Linked DNA regions of Homo sapiens: all the other regions are linked to region 1. The links come from fine-mapping of genetic effects on gene expression. A gene starts in region 1. Each other region holds a variant in brackets. All regions are shown on one strand. Distances are between the middles of the regions.

Region 1 (5,152 bases):
TTCCTCCAGGTAGCATTCCTTGATTGAGCAAAATGCACACAATTATACATTTGCGTTTTCTCTCTATTGTTTTATGTTTTTCAAGTGTTTCATATGGATATTTACATTTTCCCCAATTCTCACACCAAGCTTCTCCAAGATCAAGAAGCCTTGCCTTCAGTAGTATCTTGGGTAGTGTAGACCCAAGAGCAACATCCCTAGTAAACGGCTAGATCTTCAGAACAAAATGTGGAGACTACCTTTTAAGTCGGCCTTTTGTGTCCTTTGCAAAATGGCTCTCTTGTTTATCAAAGTCTGTCTTGTACAGTAAGCGTATCAGAAGTCCATCTGAAGGAAGCATACAAAGGCAGGAAGCACTGACATTTCCCCCCACCATGAGGTCCCCAAATCCATTCCTTCCCCATCTGCCAAGACATTCATCCATGCTCTAGTTATTTTCCACATCACAGTATTTTCTAAAATTACTCTTTCCGGAGCCCTTCCTCACTCCTTCACTATCTCACTTGAGTCTATCCATGGCATCATTTTTCCCTCTGTTCTCTTAATCCCCCTTGGTGTACACAGAACTTTCACAGGAATACTTGCTCCATCATTATCTGTCTCTGTTTCCAGAGTCCACTTAGGCCCTTAGGCTTTGCTCTCCTGACTCTGACTTCCTGAACTGTCCAGAAGTAGTCCCCCTCCTTGCCAGGTCTTGAGATGTCCACGTGGAACTTTTCGGCCCGGCCCATTTGTATATGAATGTTTCACGCAACACTCTACTACATCACTTCTGCTTCTGTGGGTAGCCAGCAGGGCCCTGTGTACAGGGATCATCTGTTTAAACTGAAATCTTGTCATTTGTTATGGCAGTTTTATTTATGAGCCTGTGTGTTGTAACCTTGTGGCATAAATATTAAATAATAATATCTCTTGGGCAAAAAAATATCATTCATGTTAACTGACAACTTCTTATGAAAATATGAAGTAAGCCCAACCACACAATTTGATATTGGCTAATTCTGAAATATGAGTAAAAGCACGGATTGCTCAACAGGTAGATGCACAGGCAGAATTATAATTTGCATTTTTACACCTTCTTGCTTCAAGAAATGAAACATTCAAGAAGTAAAAAACGTTAAAAGAAACGGGCTGAGTGGCAAATTTCTTCAGAATCAAATTCTAATTTCTGCCAGTATCTCCTAAGCAGTTTTTAGCTTCCAAAAAGAAAGACTCCAAATAATGACAATGCCACATAAGTGAAATGAATTCTGGACAATGACACTGCTCTTTTTTTTTTTTTTTTTGGCATTCTGTGAATTTCCTATTACATCAGTTTCATGATTCAGCATTTTCCATTTCATTTATTTACAGTAATATATGGCGAGATAACCCAAGGTTTCTGCAGGATTGTGGAACATAAGTTACTCTGGGCAGGAAGGGTGTCGCCTTCTGTAAATTTACTATTGTTTAGGAGAACTCAAAACAGAAGCAAGCAAGCCCTCAAAGGAACTGAGAAAATTTCTCCCCACTTTGTTCTGAGGGGTCTCAGCTACTCTGGTATTTAAAATAAATGGGTTTTGAAAAATAGGTTACTGCCCTTTAGTTGATGACTAAAACAGAAGCCAAGAAGTGTGCAAATTGCAAACTGACATGCATGAGCCAAACATATTCTCTGAAATGACAATGTTCAAGACGCAGCTAAAGTCACCACTCTGGCGGTAAGCGTGTTACAGAGAACTAGATTTCTTTCCGGCATCCGCAACTTGGCTGGAGTGACCAAGGAGGAGTTGAAGAGCGCTGGAGATGCGAGGTGCGTTGGCAGAAAACTGTCCGGGCCGGGAGGACCCGGTGGAAACTAAAAGGAGGGTCGACGCGGGTGGCGGGCGCCGAGAGTAAGAGGCGAAGTTGGGCACGGGAAGGAAAGGAGCTGCGAGAAGATTGAGAGGGAAGCCCAGGAGGGGTGGGGGGTTGGGGGGTGCTGGAGACTGCGCGCGGCGGGGCGGGGAGCGAACTCCGGGCGGCGAGGCTCCCGGGTGGAGTCGAGGACAAGAAGGGGTCTCGAGGGTAACCCGACCCGGGTCTAGAGAGAGTCCAGGAGGGAAAGGAATGAGCACGAGCGAGAGAGCAGCTTGGCAAGTCCGGTCCAAGCGCCCCTCTCCACGCCCGGGGTACCTATCCCAGGTGCCGGGAACGCCCGGGGCGCAGCGACGAGGAAGAGAGAAAACTAGCAGCGGCGTCCCCGCCCCGCGTGGCGGGTGTCCCCGGCCGCCCCCACCCGCGTCCCCGGGGCCCCGCGCGGAGGGGAAGACCCGGGCAGGGTCCGGCGCTCACCAGGTAGCAGAGCAGGAGCAGCGCGCAGGCAGAGCGGCCGCCGAGGCCCTGGGGGACGCCGCCACTCGGGACCATGGCTGCGGCCCGGGGGCCGACCGCGAGCGGCGGGGGTTGCTGCTGCTGCTGCCGCGGCCACCCGAGCCCCGCGCCGCGCCGCTGCATGGCGAGGCCGCCCGGATCCGGGCCGGAACAGGTCACCTGGTGCAGGGACCGGCCCCCGCCCGAGGCGCCACCTTCCCGCCCGCCCCCGGCCGGGCCGGCCGCCGCGCGCGGGGCCACCTGCCGCCACCTCCGGACCCGCCGCCGCCGCCACTGCCGCTCCCGCCGTCGCCGCCCCCGCAGCCCCAGCCGAGCGCCGGCTCCTCCCCGCCTCCCCGTCCCCGTCCCCTCCCTCCCCTCTGCCTCCCTGCCCAGCCCTCCTCCCGGCCGCTCCCTCTGGCCCCCGGGCTTCCACCCCTCGGAGCAGCGGGCGCCCACGCAGGTGGGCACCGACCCGGGTCCCGCCCCTTGGCCGCCGCCACCCCCCGCCCGGGTCGCTGGGCCCCGGCGCACCCCCCTTTCCCTTTCTCTCTGCTCCTCCCCCGCCCCCCTTCCGCGCTCCTGCTCTCTGCGATCCCCCTCCTCTCCCTCCGGCTCCCTCTTCCTTCTCCCCTCGCGCTCCCAAACCCCCTCTCTTTTTCACTTTCTCCTTTTCCTCCCTTTCCTCTTTCTCCCTTCCCATCCTCTTCCTCGCTTCCGCATTCTTCCTCTCCCACCCACCCCTTTTGCGGGTCGCACAGACCAGTTCCCGCCCGTGCAATGGGTTTTTGTCTGGTTGCTTTTTTGGCCGGGGCGCCATTCCCGCAGGGCGCAGGGCGAGTGTGCCCCCTGGAGTTGTGCCGCGCAGCTGCCCGGCTCCCAGGCCTTCAGGATGGATTTTGACCCCTGCCAACCTCCACCTGTCCACCTGCGGGGTTGGGACTGCCTCCTTGCTGGCATGTTTGCAGCCGGGCTGCGCCCCACCCTGCCGGCTGGTTCGCGGCACGTTCTGGATGTTTCCCGAGGGTTTTGTGTGGTGCCGCCGCCACCGCCACCACTGCGCTCTTTGTTTTAATTGTCCAGAGTATTGGCACCCAGGACGGGTTTGTATTTGATTTGCATCCCTGTGCTCCGGCTTCCACTTTGGACTGAGAAAAAAATGAATTAATTAGGTCAATACAGTAATACTGGAGCCCCAAATGAAAGGGGTGAGGCCCTGGAAGTGCGCAAACAGCTTTTTAAAAAACCAGGACACATCCTCGGCCTTGGGGACGCAGGTTGAGACTGGCTGCTCTCCGACCCGGGTTCTGCGGCCTGGCGGGGAGGGGCCTCCGGCCGGCGGGACCACCAGCTCGCCGCCGGCCTTGGCTTTCAGGGAAGCGCTTGGCTGTGTCTAGCGGCTCCGACAACTATCTGGGCCCGCAGCTGCTGCTCTGAAACAGTTAATCCACCTTCCAAAGTTCGCAGAAGCTTCCCTTTAGCACTGGTAGATTTGTGCGGATTGGAACTAATAATAGCCTGGGAGCCTGAGAGGCCACAGCCCTTTCCCTGTGCCACGAGCATAGGTCAAGTCACAACAGACGTCGGGGAGAGGCTGGTGGTGAGACGGGGTGCCCGGGATGGTTTGACGGGCGTGGACGCGCCCTCAGCTGCTTCAGTACAGGCCTGGCCACACCAGGCATGGTGGCTCCTCAGCTGTCGTCCACTTTTTTTTAGGTCACCTAAGAGCTGTGGCCTTGTGTGAGTTCCCTGGCCTTATTCCACCGGTTCTCAAACTTCAGAATTACCTGGAGGGATTGTTAAAACACAGATTCCTGGACTTCAGCCCTAGAATTTCTGACTCAGTTGGTCCTGGGAGGGACTTGAGAATGTACCTTTCTAACAAGCTCCTGGGTGATGTTAACGCGCTGGTTCAAACAGCCCTCCTCCATTTCCAGAACTATTGGCTTTTAGGGAACTGGGCTCCTGCTCCTCCCAGCCAGCTGCCACCACATTAAAGCATTTTGGGGGTTTTGACAGATGCTCCCACTATCTCTGTTCCACTTCTGCAGAAACAAAGCACTTAACATTCTTCTGTGTGACGTGGAAAACATTTATTCTATCGAGTGTCCAAGGGAACAAAAGATTTGGTGGCTTTGTCCCAGATCCTGTCTATATCTTTTCCATCAGGTCAAAATACAGACTATGCTTTTAATGTATATGGAAGGAAAATTGTCGGCCAGTTCAGGGGGAAGGGGCTTCAACAGGCATTGCAGCATTTCTAGGGTTGCCACCTGTCTTCCTGGGCCACGCTCCGGAGTTTCTCTCCTCCCACATTGTACACAGATTCTGTTGGTCTTCGGGGAGCTAAATGGTTCCTCGGGGTTGTTTGTAATCAGGATTCATGGAATTGGGAGTTTTCAAGGCCTTGTGAGCTTTGAGGATTTGGGTTTACCTAAGTGTAGGTAAGCAGAGTGCCCCACTGGAGGCTGGACTGTTTCTAACTTGCCATATCCAACTGCTCACTTCTCCCCTACTCACTCATCTCCTATTGTGTTCCTACTGTGGACTGGGCACCACCTGAGGCCCCAGGATTCCAGAGGTAGGCAGGAAGGCTCTGTTTCTGCAAGGAGCACCAGGCATGCAGAAAACCGGCCAGAGTTTGGTCTTCTAAGAGGGATGTGTGAGTTGCTCTCTCATCCTGAGCTAGAGGTGGTGGGATTAACTGCTTCATCCTGTGTTGGAGAGGGGGAGAGAAAAAGTCAAGATTTCTTTTCACGGGGGAGTGGGACGTTTTGATCCAGAAGACAGAATCAGCTCTTACTTTTGCGTCTCTCCAGCA
Region 2 (5,152 bases), 23 kb before region 1:
AATAAGATTAAATAAGCCAATTTCTCCCCAGTAGCCACAAATCTTCATGGTTTGTTACAAGTAGAGATGCATTTGGAAATCCAAAAGAGTGGAGTTATCAATTTCAACAGAAGCACTTGAAACCCTTTGTTTTTTCAATTTGAGCTCAATTTGGGCCCACTGGACTTGCTGGTCTATGACGGGGGTGGTGAGAGGGGTGAGAAATGGAAGTACTGCAAAGGTTTTCTTTGGAATCTGAAGGAAAAATTCACCAAGGAAGTTGACATCAGCTCAACTTTGGTTTGGCTTCCACTATGTTGAGTGGAGCAGAAGAGACCAGATGGCCACGTTAGACCCCTAGGAAGCCTTCTGCTGGTGATGGCTGTTGAGTGATCTAGTGTGCAGTGGAAACATTTGTCAAAACAAATGGGATTCAATTCTGCCCAACCTGACTCCAATTAAAAAAAAAAGCTTCATAAAGGAGGTTTCTAAAGTGGAAAGAGTTAAACGTGAATGACAATGAGCTCTTCCCTGTCCAAAGACCAAAATAAAGCAGGTCAAACGGGAGAACTTGCCGCAATAGATTATGAAGGAAAAAGCTCAGCCCCAAAGATCTAAAATAATTTTACAAGAACACATACCGTTTGTACCCAACAAAACCAAAGTAATGGTAGTTTTCTTTCAAATCTGTAGCTTTGCGATGTGTATAATTTGGATTCCTAGTGCAGTTTGCCCTCAGTATGATACTGTCTTTTGATTACAATTAGAGGTAATGAACAAGAATTAATTTTGGAGCAGGAGAAGACTTTAAAATTCATCTGAATAACATATAGGATATGTTATTTATCCTATATGTTATTTATCAGGATAACATATAGATCTATTGTCTAATAACTGGTTATGGCTGAGTGCAATGCTATAATTGACTAGTGATGTCTTGTCATGGGCAGTGGAATGGGTAGCAACAATACCAGTGCCATCCACCACTAAATAATTTACAGGTAGGAAAACTTAGGTCCAAAGAAGTTTACTGCTTTGCCTCTAGGATGTACTCATTAAAGCAGGGGCCTTACTTATTCACTATTCCATCCCCAGAATCTAGAACAGTGTGCAGTACTTGATAAAGACCCCATAAATATTTGATGAATGAATGAATATAGGTGTGGCCAAGTCAGGATTTGAACCTGTCTCCCTTCCTCCTAGTACTGTCCACAATTCTGTAATGTGCACCACACTGCGTAAGCCAAAGAATGACCTTTCTTCTTTCAAATCCTTTCCCCACATTCATTTCTTTAGCTTATTTTGCATGAAGAGCTTAGGTTAAACAAACAAACAAACAAAGACACCATTAAGACATAAACATAGAATGCCAGGAAAACAGTTGATGTTAGGAACCCTTTGCTGTTTTGCTTGTATTATTTCCTCAAATTTTAGAGCAAGAAGAGGCAACAGATATTATATGGTGCAAACCCCTCCATTTGGAGACAAGAAAAGTGTGAGTGTCTTATTGAAGATTTCATAGCTAGAAGAAGCTCTAATATGACTCAAACCTGGCCTCCCCACTGCAAACCAATGGGCTTTTCTTCTCACAAGTCCTCCCAGAGAGAACCTCGGCTGATATTCAGTGGGCATGACCTGTGCGGATATACTGGTTGCTAAAACACTGAAATATTTCTATTTTGGTTTGATAATTGATGTCACCTTGAACCTCCAAGGCCCCGCCACCCACCCTGGCCCCTCCTTCAAGTTAGAGCCTGGCCCAACAGCGGCCTCTGGAGCCGGCTTCAGCACTAAGGCTAGCACCCACTGGAGTTCACCGAGGCCCCCACCCCTCACTGGTTGTTAAATATGTTAAATCTCATCCCTGGGTCAGGTGGGGTTAAGGGACGATTATGTAGCCCATTCTCTGGTTCAGCTGAGTGATCAGAACCCTGACACAGATCCCTTGCTTGGGAAAAGGTAACACTTCCACGTAACAAAGGTAACACTTCTGTGTAACAAAACCCCACTCCAGATGTGCTTCGAACACACAGCAATGAAGCCACTGAGATCATCAGCCCACCTTCAGAGAAGCTGAAGATGGTCTCAATGCAAGGAATCACAATGACTACAAGTCTGTAAGCAAAATCTGCGGGGAAAGAAGCGAAGATTTCTCAACCTGGAGAAATAAAGCCAGAGCACAGGCAGCTCAATAATGCTTTCCAAACACAGGACATTCAAAAGCCAGTGGCCAATAAGGTGTTTAATTTTCTTTAAAGCCAAAGTCTGAGAATAAAAACTCGATTTTCTAGCAGATATGATTTAGGTCAGAACTTCCTCCAGAAAGGATACTAGGCAGTGAAGCAGGTTCCTAAGGAAGTCTGTGGAACATTCGATGGCAGGAATCTTAAGAATAAAACCAGTTCTACTCCTAGTAATTTATCCTCCAAACATGCTTATGAGTGTGCACAGAGATACATGTACAGGGATGTTCAGTGAAGCCTTGTGGTTAAAAG[C/A]AACAGCATGATCATCAGCAAAAGATAGGTTAAATAAATTACGGTCTGTCAGGCGATGCAACGCTAAGGAGCTGTTGAAAAGAATGAGGTCGGCAGCATGTCCTGGTACAGAAAAATCTACTGTATTGTTAATGAGCGCAGGTCTGTTTCTAGAATCCTCTCATTTGTGCAGGAAGAAAACGGGACACAACTTAACGCTTGTATGTGCAGAGAACATTTCTAGAAGGAAACACAAGAAACTGTTGCTAATGAATTTACTTCTGGGAAAAGGACCAGAAGATTCGAGGGGGAGGGGTGTGGAAACTTACTCGTTCCCCTAAACCTTTTCACGCTATTTAAATTTTTTTATTGTTACCGTGTACACGTATTACTTTTTCGTCTACGAAAGAAAAGAACAAAAGCTCTGAGCACTTCCGGGCAGGCATATAGAAGGAGCCAGCTACATCCCAAGGCCTCCCCACCCTCGGCCTCCAAGTCTGCCCAATCCGCTTCAAAGACACAAAGTCCAGTGGGTGAAGAAAACAGGATGATTCACATCGATAAAAATTCAACTTTAAAAAAAGTATTCTTTCTAATTTAGAACCTGGGTTAGGACTGTATTAGCATATTTCAGAGAGGCGGCATAGCAAAGTCAAAAGAATCAGGAAGTCTGGACTCCAGTTAAACAAACTCCCTGAGCCTCGGTTTTCCTCTTTGTTAAAGAAAGGTTGAGAATAATACTGTCTTTCCCATGGTACTATTATGAGGATTAAATGAGACAATGTGTGTGAAAAAAGTGTTTCGAAAAATCATAAAGGGGAATGTAGATGCTAGGCATTAATTAGTGTTATTACTGAAAAATTCAGACTACCATGATTAACTGGAAAAAAAGGAACTAGGTCTGTTTTTTTTAATGCCAAATATATAGTTTATAACTACTAAAAGTACTATCATGACATTGACTTGAATAGTCCTGCTGCATAAACCATTTTTTTTCACAAAGACAAGTCAAGGCTGGTTCCAACACTTGACTTAACTTTCAATCATTTTGTTGTAATGAAATTTTGTTATAAAAAATCATACTTCCAGTCCATTGGATCTGAAGATGAGAATGCATTTTTGAAACGAAAAGAGTGGAGAAGAAGAAAACTGCCATGTTGCCCCAGAGTTTCTTATTTAAGAGGGAAGATCAGAGAAGTGTTCATAAAGCTAAACATTAGGGCATTTAAGAACCTTCCAAGAGTGTTCCTAAACTGCTTATCCAGTCTTACTTCTTGAATTGCCCATGTCACACCTGAGATTATACCTTGGAAAATAAACCACAGCAAGTGTGCTGCTAGTCCACATTTCCACTCCATGGCAGACAGTAACTGATGGACATGGCACTCTTTCTCAGTAAGTGCAGACTCATCCTCAGAATCCTACTCAACACCATGCTCTAGGCAGCCACCCCCAAGCAACACAAGCTAGCCTGTGAGATGAAGCCCTTGTTGCCATCTTTCCCGTCAAGGAACAAAGGCTTATCACCATTTCCCAATCCGGAATTTTCTCCTTTGTGTGCCACAGCTTATGCCTTCCCCTCTGCCTGAAAGCTCAATGTCCTTCTTTCATTCCTTTTTTTTTTTTCCTTCTTCTTCTCTTTTTTTGAGACAGAGTCTTGCTCTGTCACCCAGGCTGGAGTGCAGTGGCACCATTTTGGCTCACTGCAGCCTCCATCTCCTGAATTCAAGCAATTCTCCCACCTCAGCCCCCCAAGTAGCTGGGACCACAGATGCATGCCACCATGCCTGGCTAATTTTCTGTATTTTTAGTAGAGATGGGCTTTCACCATGTTGGCTAGGCTGGTCTCTAACTCCTGGCCTCAAGTGATCTGCCTGCCTCAGCCTCCCAAAGTGCTGGGATCACAGGCGTGAGCCACTGCACCCAGCCCCTCCTTTTTGATCCATGAAAACTCTACACATCCTTCAAGTCTCTGTCAAAATGTCACCTCCTCTGAAGAAGCCACACAAAGTGCTTAACACACACAGATTGCTCAGGAACTTTTTTTCAGTGAATGAATGACTTAAAATAAATAAATAGCTTCATGACATCACCTGGTAGTTTAGCCTAATGAATAAGTGTGGGGTTTGGGAACCAAACTATCCAGGTTCAAACTCCAGCATCTTCATTAATAGCTGTGCAAACTTAGACAAACTACTCTATCTCTCTGAGTCAGTTTTCTGTTTTCTCCTTGGTGGAATATTGGGCATATTAAATTAAATAACAGCGGGCCAGGCGCTGTAGTTCACCCAGCACTTTGTAATCCCTGCACTTTGGGGGCCGATGCAGGCAGATCACTTGAGGACAGGAGTTTGAGACCAGCCTGGCCAACATAGCGAAACACCATCTCTACTGAAAATACAAAAATTAGCTGGGTGTGGTGGCACGTGTCTGTAACACCAGCTACTCGGGAGGCTGAGGCAGGAGAATCGCATGAACCTGGGAGGCGGAGGGTGCAGTGAGCTGAGATCGCGCCACTGCACTCCAGCCTGGGTGACAGAGCAAGACCCTGTCTCAAAAAAATTAGATAACCACGTAAACCACATAAAGCACTTTGACAGTGCCTGGCACATAGCAAATGTTCAGTAGCAGTAAGTGACTGTAACTATTGGTAGCCATGTTAAAGAGGGTGGCTTTGTCCTCATCTTTAAGCCTCCACA
Region 3 (5,152 bases), 780 kb after region 1:
AGGCACATAACTGTCAGATTCACCAAGGTTGAAATGAAGGAAAACATGTTAAGGGCAGCCAGAGAGAAAGGTTGGGTTACCCACAAAGGGAAGCCCATCAGACTAACAGCAGATCTCTCAGCAAAAACCCTACAAGCCAGAAGAGACTGGGGGCCAATATTCAACATTCTTAAAGAAAAGAATTTTCAACCCAGAATTTCATATCCAGCCAAACTAAGCTTCGTAAGTGAAGGAGAAATAAAATCCTTTACAGACAAGCAAATACTGAGAAATTTTGTCACCACCAGGCCTGCCCTAAAAGAGCTCCTGAGGGAAGCACTAAACATGGAAAGGAACAACTGGTACCAGCCACTGCAAAAACATGCCAAATTGTAAAGACCATCGATGCTAAGAAGAAACTGCATCAACTAATGAGCAAAATAACCAGCTAACATCATAATGACAGGATCAAATCCACACATAACAATATTAACCTTAAATGTCAATGGGCTAAATTCCCCAATTAAAAGACACAGACTGGCAAATTGGATAAAGAGTCAAGACCTATCAGTGTGCTGTATTCAGGAGACTCATCTCACATGCAGAGACAAACATAGGCTCAAAATAAAGGGATGGAGGAAGATCTGCCAAGCAAATGGAAAGCACAAAAAGAGCAGGAGTTACAATCCTAGTCTCTGATAAAACAGACTTTAAACAAACAAAGATCAAAAGAGACAAAGAAGGCCATTACATAATGGTAAGGGATCAATTCAACAAGAAGAGCTAATTATCCTAAATATATTTGCACCCAATATAGAAGCACCCAGATTCAAAAAGCAAGTCCTGAGACACCTAAAAAGAGACTTAGACTCCCACACAATAATGGGAGACTTTAACACCCCACTGTCAATATTAGACAGATCAATGAGACAGAAGGTTAACAAGGATATCCAGGACTTGATCTCAGCTCTGCCCCAAGCTGATCTAATAGACATCTACAGAACCCTCCACCCCAAATCAACAGAATATACATTCTTCTCAGCACCACATCGCACTTATTTCAAAATTGATCACATAGTTGGAAGTAAAGCACTCCTCAGCAAATGTAAAAGAACAGAAATCACAACAAACTGTCTCTCAGACCACAGTGCAATCAAATTAGAACTCAGGATTAAGAAACTTACTCAAAACCGCACAACTACATGGAAACTGAACAACTTGCTCCTGAATGACTACTGGGTACATAACGAAATGAAGGCAGAAATAAAGATGCTCTTTGAAACCAATGAGAACAAAGAGAAACATACCAGAATCTCTGGGACACATTTAAAGCAGTGCGTAGGGGGAAATTTATAGCACTAAATGCCCACAAGAGAAAGCAGGAAAGATCTAAAATTGACACCCTAACATCACAATTAAAAGAACTAGAGAAGCAAGAGCAAACACATTCAAAAGCTAGCAGAAGGCAAGAAATAACTAAGATCAGAGCAGAACTGAAGGAGATAGAAACACAAAAAACCCTTCAAAAAATCAGTGAATCCAGGAGTTGGTTTTTTGAAAAGATCAACAAAATTGGTAGAATGCTAGCAAAACTAATAAAGAAGAAAAGAGAGAAGAATCAAATAGATGCAATAAAAAATGCTAAAGGGAATATCACCACCGATTCCACAGAAATACAAACTACCATCAGAGAATACTATAAACACCTCTGCACAAATAAACTAGAAAATCTGGAAGAAATGGATAAATTCCTCGACACATACGCCCTCCCAAGACCAAACCAGGAAGTTGAATCACTGAATAGGCCAATAACAGGCTCTGAAATTGAGGCAATAATTAATAGCCTCCCAACCAAAAGAAGTCTATGACGAGATGGATTCACAGCCGAATTCTACCAGAGGTACAAAGAGGAGCTGGTACCATTCCTTCTGAAACTATTCCAATCAATAGAAAAAGAGGGAATCCTCCTTAACTCATTTTATGACACCAGCATCATCCGGATACCAAAGCCTGGCAGAGACACAGCAAAAAAAGAAAATTTTAGACCAATACCCCGATGAACATTGATGTGAAAATTCTCAATAAAAGATTGGCAAACCAAATCCAGCAGCATATCAAAAAGCTTATCCACCAAGATCAAGTCG[G/T]TTTCATCCCTGGGATGCAAGGCTGGTTCAATGTATGCAAATCAATAAACATAATCCATCACATAAACAGAACCAAAGACAAAAATCACATGATTATCTCAATAGATGCAGAAAAGGCCTTCGACAAAATTCAACAGCCTACATGCTAAAAACTCTCAATAAACTAGGTATTGATGGAACGTATCTCAAAATAATAAGAGCTATTTATGACAAACCCACAGCCAGTATCATACTGAATGGGCAAAAACTGGAAGCATTCCCTTTGAAAACTGGCACAAGAGAGGGATACCTTCTCTTACCACTCCTATTCAACATAGTGTTGGAAGTTCTGGCCATGGCAATCAGGCAAGAGAAAGAAATAAAGGTTTTCAATTAGGAAAAGAGGAAGTCAAACTGTCCCTGTTTGCAGATGACATGATTGTATATTTAGAAGATCCCATCATCTCAGCTGCAAATCTCCTTAGGCTGATAAGCAACTTCAGCAAAGTCTCAGGATACAAAATCAATGTGCAAAAATCACAAACATTCTTATACACCAATAACAGGCAAACAGAGAGCCAAATTATGAGTGAACTCCCATTTACAATTGCTACAAAGAGAATAAAATACCTAGGAATCCAACTTACAAGGGATGTGAAGGACCTCTTGAAGGAGAACTACAAACCACTGTTCAATGAAATAAAAGAGGACACAAACAAATGGAAGAACATTCCATGCTCATGGATAGGAAGAATCAAAATCGTGAAAATGGCCATACTGCCCAAAGTGAGGCACAAACAAATGGAAGAACATTCCATGCTCATGGATAGGAAGAATCAAAATCGTGAAAATGGCCATACTGCCCAAAGTAATTTATAGATTCAATGCCATCCCCATCAAGCTACCACTGACTTTCTTCACAGAATTGGAAAAAACTACTTTAAAGTTCATATGGAACCAAAAAAGAGCCCGCAGTGCCAAGACAATCCTAAACAAAAAGAACAAAGCTGGAGGCATCACGCTACCTGACTTCAAACTGTACTACAAGGCTACAGTAACCAAAAGAGCATGGTACTGGTACCAAAACAGAGATGTAGACCAATGGAACAGAACAGCAGCCTCAGAGATAACACCACACATCTACAGCCATCTGAACTTTGACAAACCTGACAAAAACAAGAAATGGGGAAAGGATTCCCTATTTAATAAATGGTGCTGGGAAAACTAGCTATCCATATGTAGAAAGCTGAAACTGGATCCCTTCCTTACACCTTATACAAAAGTTAATTCAAGATTGATTAAAGACTTAAATGTGAGACCTAAAACCATAAAATCCCTAGAAGAAAACCTAGGCAATACCATTCAGGACATAGGCATGGGCAAGGACTTCACGTCTAAAACACCAAAAGCAATGGCAACAAAAGCCAAAATTGACAAATGGGAACTAATTATATGAAAGAGCTTCTGCACAGCAAAAGAAACTACCATCAGAGTGAACAGGCAACCTACAGAATGGGAGAAAATTTTTGCAATCTACCCATGTGACATAGGGTTAATATCCAGAATCTACAAAGAACTTAAACACATTTACAAGAAAAAAACAACCCCATCAAAAAGTGGGCAAAGGGCCGGGCGCGGTGGCTCACGCCTGTAATCCCAGCACTTTGGGAGGCCGAGGCGGGCGGATCACGAGGTCAGGAGATCGAGACCATCCCGGCTAAAACGGTGAAACCCCGTCTCTACTAAAAATACAAAAAATTAGCCGGGCGTAGTGGCGGGCGCCTGTAGTCCCAGCTACTTGGGAGGCTGAGGCAGGAGAATGGCGTGACCCCGGGAGGCGGAGCTTGCAGTGAGCCGAGATCCCGCCACTGCACTCCAGCCTGGGCGACAGAGCGAGACTCCGTCTCAAAAAAAAAAAAAAAAAAAAAAGTGGGCAAAGGATGTGAACAGACACTTTTCAAAAGAAGACATTTATGCAGCCAACAGACACATGAAAAAATGCTCACCATCACTGGCCATCAGAGAAATGCAAATCAAAACCACAATGAGATACCATCTCACACCAGTTAGAATGGTGATCACTAAAAAGTCAGGAAACAACAGGTGCTGGAGAGGATGTGGAGAAATTGGAACGCTTTTACACTATTGGTAGTGTAAACTAGTTCAACCACTGTGGTAGACAGTGTGGTGATTCCTCAAGGATCTAGAACTAGAAATACCATTTGCCTCAGTGATCCCATTACTGGGTATATACCCAAAGAATTGTAAATCATGCCACTATAAAGATACATGCACAGATATGTTTATTGCGGTACTATTCACAATAGCAAAGACTTGGAACCAACCTAAATGTCCATCAATAATAGACTGGATTAAAAAAATGTGGCACATACTATGCAGCCATTAAAAAGGGTGAGTTCATGTCCTTTATAGCAACATGGATGAAGTGGGAAACCATCATTCTGAGCAAACTATCGCAAGAACAGAAAACCAAACACTGCATGTTCTCACTCATAGGTGGGAATTGAATAATGAGAACACTTGGACACAGGGTGGGAAACATCACACACTGAGGTGGGGGAATGGGGGAGGGATAGCATTAGGAGAAATACCTAATGTAAATGATAAGTTAATGAGTGCAGCAAACCAACACGGGCACATGTATACATATGTAACAAACCTGCACATGTACCCTAGAACTTAAAGTATAATTTAAAAAAAGTAAAATAATGAAAAAGAATAGTGACTGTACATCACATAGCCTGCTGCCTGGCACATATACATACTCAGGAAATCTTTTTCTTTTTTATTCCATTCCCTGTTCTAGTAGTCCAGAAGACATGATGAGTGTCTGAACTAAGACAACAACACTGGAAATGGAAACAATTTGATGGATTTGAAAGAGATTTTAAGGATGATTTGGGAACTGATCAGATACGGGGTCTATGAGAAAAAGAAAAGATAATGATCACCTTCAAGTATCTAGGTTGTGTAATTGGCTAGAAGTTACTTGACATGAGATAGAGGATACAGGAGGAGGAACAGGGCTG
Region 4 (5,152 bases), 150 kb before region 1:
GATCCATTCTGAGATTTATTTATTTATTTATTTTTTAGACAGTCTTGCTCTGTCACCCAGGCTGGAGTGCAGTGGCATGATCTTGGCTTACTGCAACCTCCGCCTCCCGGGTTCAAGAGATTCTCTTGCCTCAGCCTCCCGAGTAGAGTAGCTGGAACTACAGGTACACGCCACCACGCCCGGCTAATTTTTGTATTTTTAGTAGAGACGGGGTTTCACCGTGTTGGCCAGACTGGTCTCGAACTCCTGACCTCAAGTGATCCGCCCAGCTCGGCCTCCCAAAGTGCTGGGATTACAGGCATGAGCCACCGCACCTAGCCCTGAGATAATTTTTGTATGTGATATGAGGAAGGGGTTGAACATAATACTTCTGCATGTGGGAATTCAGTTGTGCCAGAACCAATTGTGGAAGAGCCTATTCTTTCCCTACTGGTGGAGAAAGATCCTTACATGATTTTAATCTCTGTGGAATATGCATGGAGGCAGGTAAAGAAAAGTCAGCCACTCCAAACCCTGGTCTGGAAACAAGCAGGGAGCCCAGGACAAGTTGATCAGTGCTTCAAACAAAGGACAGGGAGGAGGAAAATTTCCAGAGTCGCAGCCCTGCGTGTAAGTGGAGGAGCTGTTCTCTGTTTATGATTTTATCAAATGTAAGTTGAGTGGCACTTTCAAAATAATTTAATTTATAAAATGCAGTCAATAGAATGAATGTTGCAAACCATGTGGTAACATTTAAATCCCATAGTTGGAGCTCAGTACATTCAACATACCCACACACAAGGCTAATCTTTGTATAGGGGAGCTGAAAGATTTCTATCATTTAGGTAATTTACTTCCTCTGTTTGCTTTTTTTTTTTTTTTTTTTTGAGACAGTATCATTCTGTCACCTGGTCTGGACTGCAGTGGCATGATCTCAGCTCACTGCAACCTCCACCTCCTGAGTTTGAGTGATTCTTGTGCCTCAGCCTCCCAAGTAGCTGGGAGCATGTCATCATGCCTGGCTAATTTTTGCATTTTTAGTAGAGGCAGGGTTTTGCCATGTTGGCCAGGCTGGTCTCCAACTTCTGACCTCAAGTGATATGCCCGCCTCGGCCTCCCAAAGTGATGGGATTACAGGCATGAGCCACTGAACCGGGAAACTTAGTAGGGTTTTTATAGAGATAAATTAGTTAAAATATGTGAAGTCCTTTGAGTAGTCCTTGGCTATATAAGTGGTAGCTATTTGCCATCAAGATGATGATCATGATGATGAATGATGATGATGATGATTATTTTATCATCTTCATCATTATGTTCTCCTGACTCTTTAAGGAAGGGGAGAAAAGAACAGTTTATAATATCCGCAAAACAGCAATATATCAAATAATAGTTTTTTTGTTTTTTGTTTTTTTTTTGAGACGGAGTCTCGCTCTGTCTTCTAGGCTGGAGTGCAGTGGCTTGATCTCGGCTTACTGCAACTTCCGCCTCCTGGGTTCAAGCAATTCTCCTGCCTCAGCCTCCCGAGTAGCTGGAACTACAAGCGCCCACCACCACACCCAGCTAATCTTTTGTATTTTAGTAGAGACGGGGTCTCTCCATGTTGTGCAGGCTGGTCTTGGACTCCTGAGCTCAGGCAATCTGCCTGCCTCGGCCTTCCTAAGTGCTAGGATTACAGGCATGAGACACCGTGCCCGGCCAAAGAATAGATTTAACAAAATATTTGTTAAACCTTTAGGATAGAAATTATAAAACTTCATTAAAAGCCTTAAAAAAAGATGAGGATGCAATTTATCTATTTATTTTTCCCACACGTGAACCACCAGTGATGATGCAATTTAAATGATTTGTCTGATAAGGCAAGTCACTCCTCTTTGTCTTTCTCCAAAGTTGTCTTAAGTACTTTTTGTCCCTTTGCTCTTCCAAAAAAATTTTAAAATTAGGTGAGTTTACAGATGAATTTTGGGGGGACTTGAAATCTTTATGAGATTGAGTTCATGTCATAAAGTGAGGGGGCCTGCAGTAGCTGAAGCCCCATGGGACCACCAGCCTTTTTCATATACTCCAAAGTACCTTGCGAAGATGATCATTTTCTATGTGAAAATGATGTACAAAGGTTACTAAGCACTGGAATGGACCAGAGGGCTAGAACAGGGAACTCAGAAATAGAGCCTCATATACATTGCAAATTTCATCATCTCCAAAAGTGCCATTACCAGTCTGCTGGGATGAAAAGGATTATTCAATAAATGGTACAGCTACTTATGTATATGGACAATAAAATAAAATTGCTTTCTTTCTTTCTCTTTCTTTCTTTTTCTTTCTTTCTTTCTTTCTTTCTTTCTTTCTTTCTTTCTTTCTTTCTTTCTTCTTTCTTTCTTTCCTTCTTTTT[CT/C]TTTTTTTTTTTGAGACAGAGTCTTGCTCTCTCACCCAGGCTGGAGTGCAGTGGTGCAATTTTGGCTCACTGCAACCTCCATCTTCTGGGTTCAAGAAATTCTCTGCCTCAGCCTCCTGAGTAGCTGGGATTACAGGCATGCACCACCATGCCCGGCTAATTTTTGTATTTTTTAGTCGAGATGGGGTTTCTCCATTTTGCCCAGGCTGGTCTTGAACTTCTGGCCTTAAGTGATCTGCCTGCTTCAGCCTCCCAAGGTGCTGAGATTACAGGTGTGAGCCACCGCGCCCTGCCAAGAATGCAAAATATTACAAAGTTTTTTGAAATGTAGGATAATATTTTGATGACATCAGATCAGGAAAAAACCTAACAAAAGCAGAGAAAGCTCAAATCATAAAACAAAAACAAATAAGTTGAATCATATGCATGGGAACAACCACTACAACTTATGTCACAGACAAAGAGCTAATTTCAACAAGAAAGAACATTTTCAAATCAATAAAGTAGCAATAATTCGATAGAAACAGATAGATCACAGAAAAGTATACATAAGTGGTCTTAAGAATCTAAAAATACTAAATTTTTGCACCCTATGTTCAACTTCGTTAATAATAACAGAAATACAAATCAATGGTCAGGCATGGTGGCTCACACCTGTAATCCCAGCACTTTGGGAGATTGAGGCAGGACCATCACTTGGGTCCAGGAGTTGGAGACCAGCGTGGGCAACAGAGCAAGACACGCTCTCAATTTTTAAAAATTATATTTTTTAAAAAAGAAATGCAAATAAAAACTACATTGAGATCCCATTTTTCACCTATCGGGTTGGTAAAAATCCAGAAGTCTGACTTATGTTATTGTCCATGGTAGAGGAAATAGACCCTTTTACAATGCTGTGGGGAGCAAATTTTTACAACCCCTATGGTGGAAATTTGGCAATATCTGTCAAAATTACAATTGTACCTACTCTTTGGCCATTTCCATATCTAAAAATGTTTTCCCTAGACATCTACACACGCGTGTGCCATGATAAAAGAACAAGGTTACTCAGTGCACCATTGTTTGTAACAACAAAATATGGGAAAGAAGCCACTAAATATTAATCTTGTTAAATATAAATTATAGTACATTCATATTATGGAATATTATATAGCTATAAAACAACAAAGAAACTCTCTTAAATATATTACTGGTGTGGAATAATCTCCAGGTTATATAGTAAAGGAAGAAAAAAAAACCCAAGATGCATAACAGTGTACACTAATATTTGGATTAAAAAAGTGAAAATATTTATTGTATTTTGCTTTTATGTGCATAATTCTGGGAGGACACTAAAGGGAATTGGGTGATTTGAAGAGGCAGAGAATAGACCTTTTACTATATGCTCTTTTGTACCTCTTGAAGTTTAAGCTATGTGCTGTATGCATTATCTTTCAAAAGAAAGAGCAATATATTAAAATTGAACACATTTGCTACATTGAAGTTAAAATTTTTGATATAATAAAAGGTATCATAAGAGGTTAAAAGACAGTAGGAGAATATATTTTCAATACACGTAACTGAGAAAAGATTCGTATCCAGAGTTCCAAATCAATAAGAAAAAAAAATCCAATATGAAAATGAACAGAAAATATGATCAAAACACTCACAGAAGAAGAAATGTAAATGGCCAATTAACATAATAAGAAAGGCTTATTATAGTGATCAGGAAACTATATATTAAAATGAGCTATCATTTTACTACAGTTGATTGGGAAACGTTTTAAATTCTGACACATTCAAGTATTGGTGAGGATATAGAACATAGAGAACATTCATAGCTTGCTGGCAGGAATGTAAATTGGTATTACCACATTGGAGAACTACATGGCAATAAAGTAGAAAATATGCATGCCCTTTGACACAGTAATTGCACTTTTGGGTACATAATCTAGAAAACTTCTAGAACATTTGCTTTAAAAGATACGTACAAAATATCCATTGATATATTATTTGTATTAACAAAAATCAACAAGAAAATGAATAAATAATGTTATTACAAAATTGAACATTATATAGCAATATTCCTATTCCAAGATTCCTATATGTATCAATGAGAATAAAGTGTAAACACGTAAGCTGGAGTTGAAAAGCAAATGGTTTAAAGAATATTACTTAAATAAAATTTTAAAACATTCAAATAATTCTATGTAATTTTTGTGCTAATCTACATATGTAGTAAGAGTATGACAAGTACAATGGAATTAGAAACACTAAATTCAAAAAAAGGCCAGGTGCGGTGGCTCATGCCTGTAACCCCAGAACCTTTGGAGGCCAAGGCAGATGGATCTCTTGAGCCCAGGAGTTCGAGACCAGCCTGGTCAACATGGTGAAACCCTGTCACTATTAAAAATAGAAAAATTAGCCGGGCATGGTAGTGCATGCCTGTAGTCCCAGCTACTTGGGAGGCTGAGGTGAGAGGATCACTTGAACCCAGGAGTCAGAGGTTGCAGTGAGCCGAGATCACACCACTGCTCTCCAGCCTGGATGACAGAGTGAGACCCTGTCTTGAAAAACAAACAAAAACAAAAACAAAACTCATGTAATCCATAAATATATACACCTACTATGTAGCACAAAAATTAAAAATAAAAAAAACCCCATTAAATTCAAGTCATGGTTACCTCTGGGCATAGAGGGAGGATGAACCTTTTCCTGGCTGTGTGACAAGAACTAGGTTTTTTTCTACCACGATAGGAGTAGGGAAGAATGGTTATGGGATATTTTTTGTGGCTATAATATTT

Direction of the effects. Alleles are on the strand shown, and positions count from the first base shown. SD is a standard deviation of normalised expression in the study named. Not every link is listed here.
For the expression in prefrontal cortex of the gene that starts at base 2,627 in region 1, allele C in region 4 goes with a higher level than allele CT (moderate effect, 0.57 SD a copy in CommonMind).

What was found. PIP is the estimated chance that this variant, and not a neighbour inherited with it, causes the effect.
Region 2: its variant is the best candidate, but not a certain one, in a credible set for the expression of SEL1L3 in monocytes after LPS (Quach 2016, PIP 0.75).
Region 3: its variant is the best candidate, but not a certain one, in a credible set for the expression of SEL1L3 in B cells (CEDAR, PIP 0.70).
Region 4: its variant is the best candidate, but not a certain one, in a credible set for the expression of SEL1L3 in prefrontal cortex (CommonMind, PIP 0.82).

Annotation. Positions count from the first base shown.
Region 1 is chr4:25,860,362-25,865,513 of GRCh38, forward strand. SEL1L3 (SEL1L family member 3) reads right to left here and starts at 2,627. Exons shown (of 24, transcript NM_015187.5): 1 at 2,314-2,627. The coding sequence starts at 2,475. LOC102723733 (a long non-coding RNA gene) reads left to right here and starts at 766. Exons shown (of 2, transcript XR_427503.5): 1 at 766-1,792. It overlaps LOC124900688 (a long non-coding RNA gene), which reads right to left. Exons shown (of 3, transcript XR_007058092.1): 3 at 4,847-5,045. RefSeq lists silencers at 1,626-1,920, 2,191-2,650, 2,701-2,860.
Region 2 is chr4:25,836,952-25,842,103 of GRCh38, forward strand. All of the region lies in intron 2 of SEL1L3 (SEL1L family member 3), which reads right to left. Among named protein-coding and RNA genes, the nearest start is that of SEL1L3, 23 kb to the right of the region's middle. The variant C/A (reference allele first, on the strand shown) is at 2,475.
Region 3 is chr4:26,642,114-26,647,265 of GRCh38, forward strand. The region is part of intron 7 of TBC1D19 (TBC1 domain family member 19); the gene reads left to right. Among named protein-coding and RNA genes, the nearest start is that of TBC1D19, 61 kb to the left of the region's middle. The variant G/T (reference allele first, on the strand shown) is at 2,124.
Region 4 is chr4:25,712,209-25,717,360 of GRCh38, forward strand. It overlaps a transcript of SEL1L3 not described here. Among named protein-coding and RNA genes, the nearest start is that of SLC34A2, 59 kb to the left of the region's middle. The variant CT/C (reference allele first, on the strand shown) is at 2,369.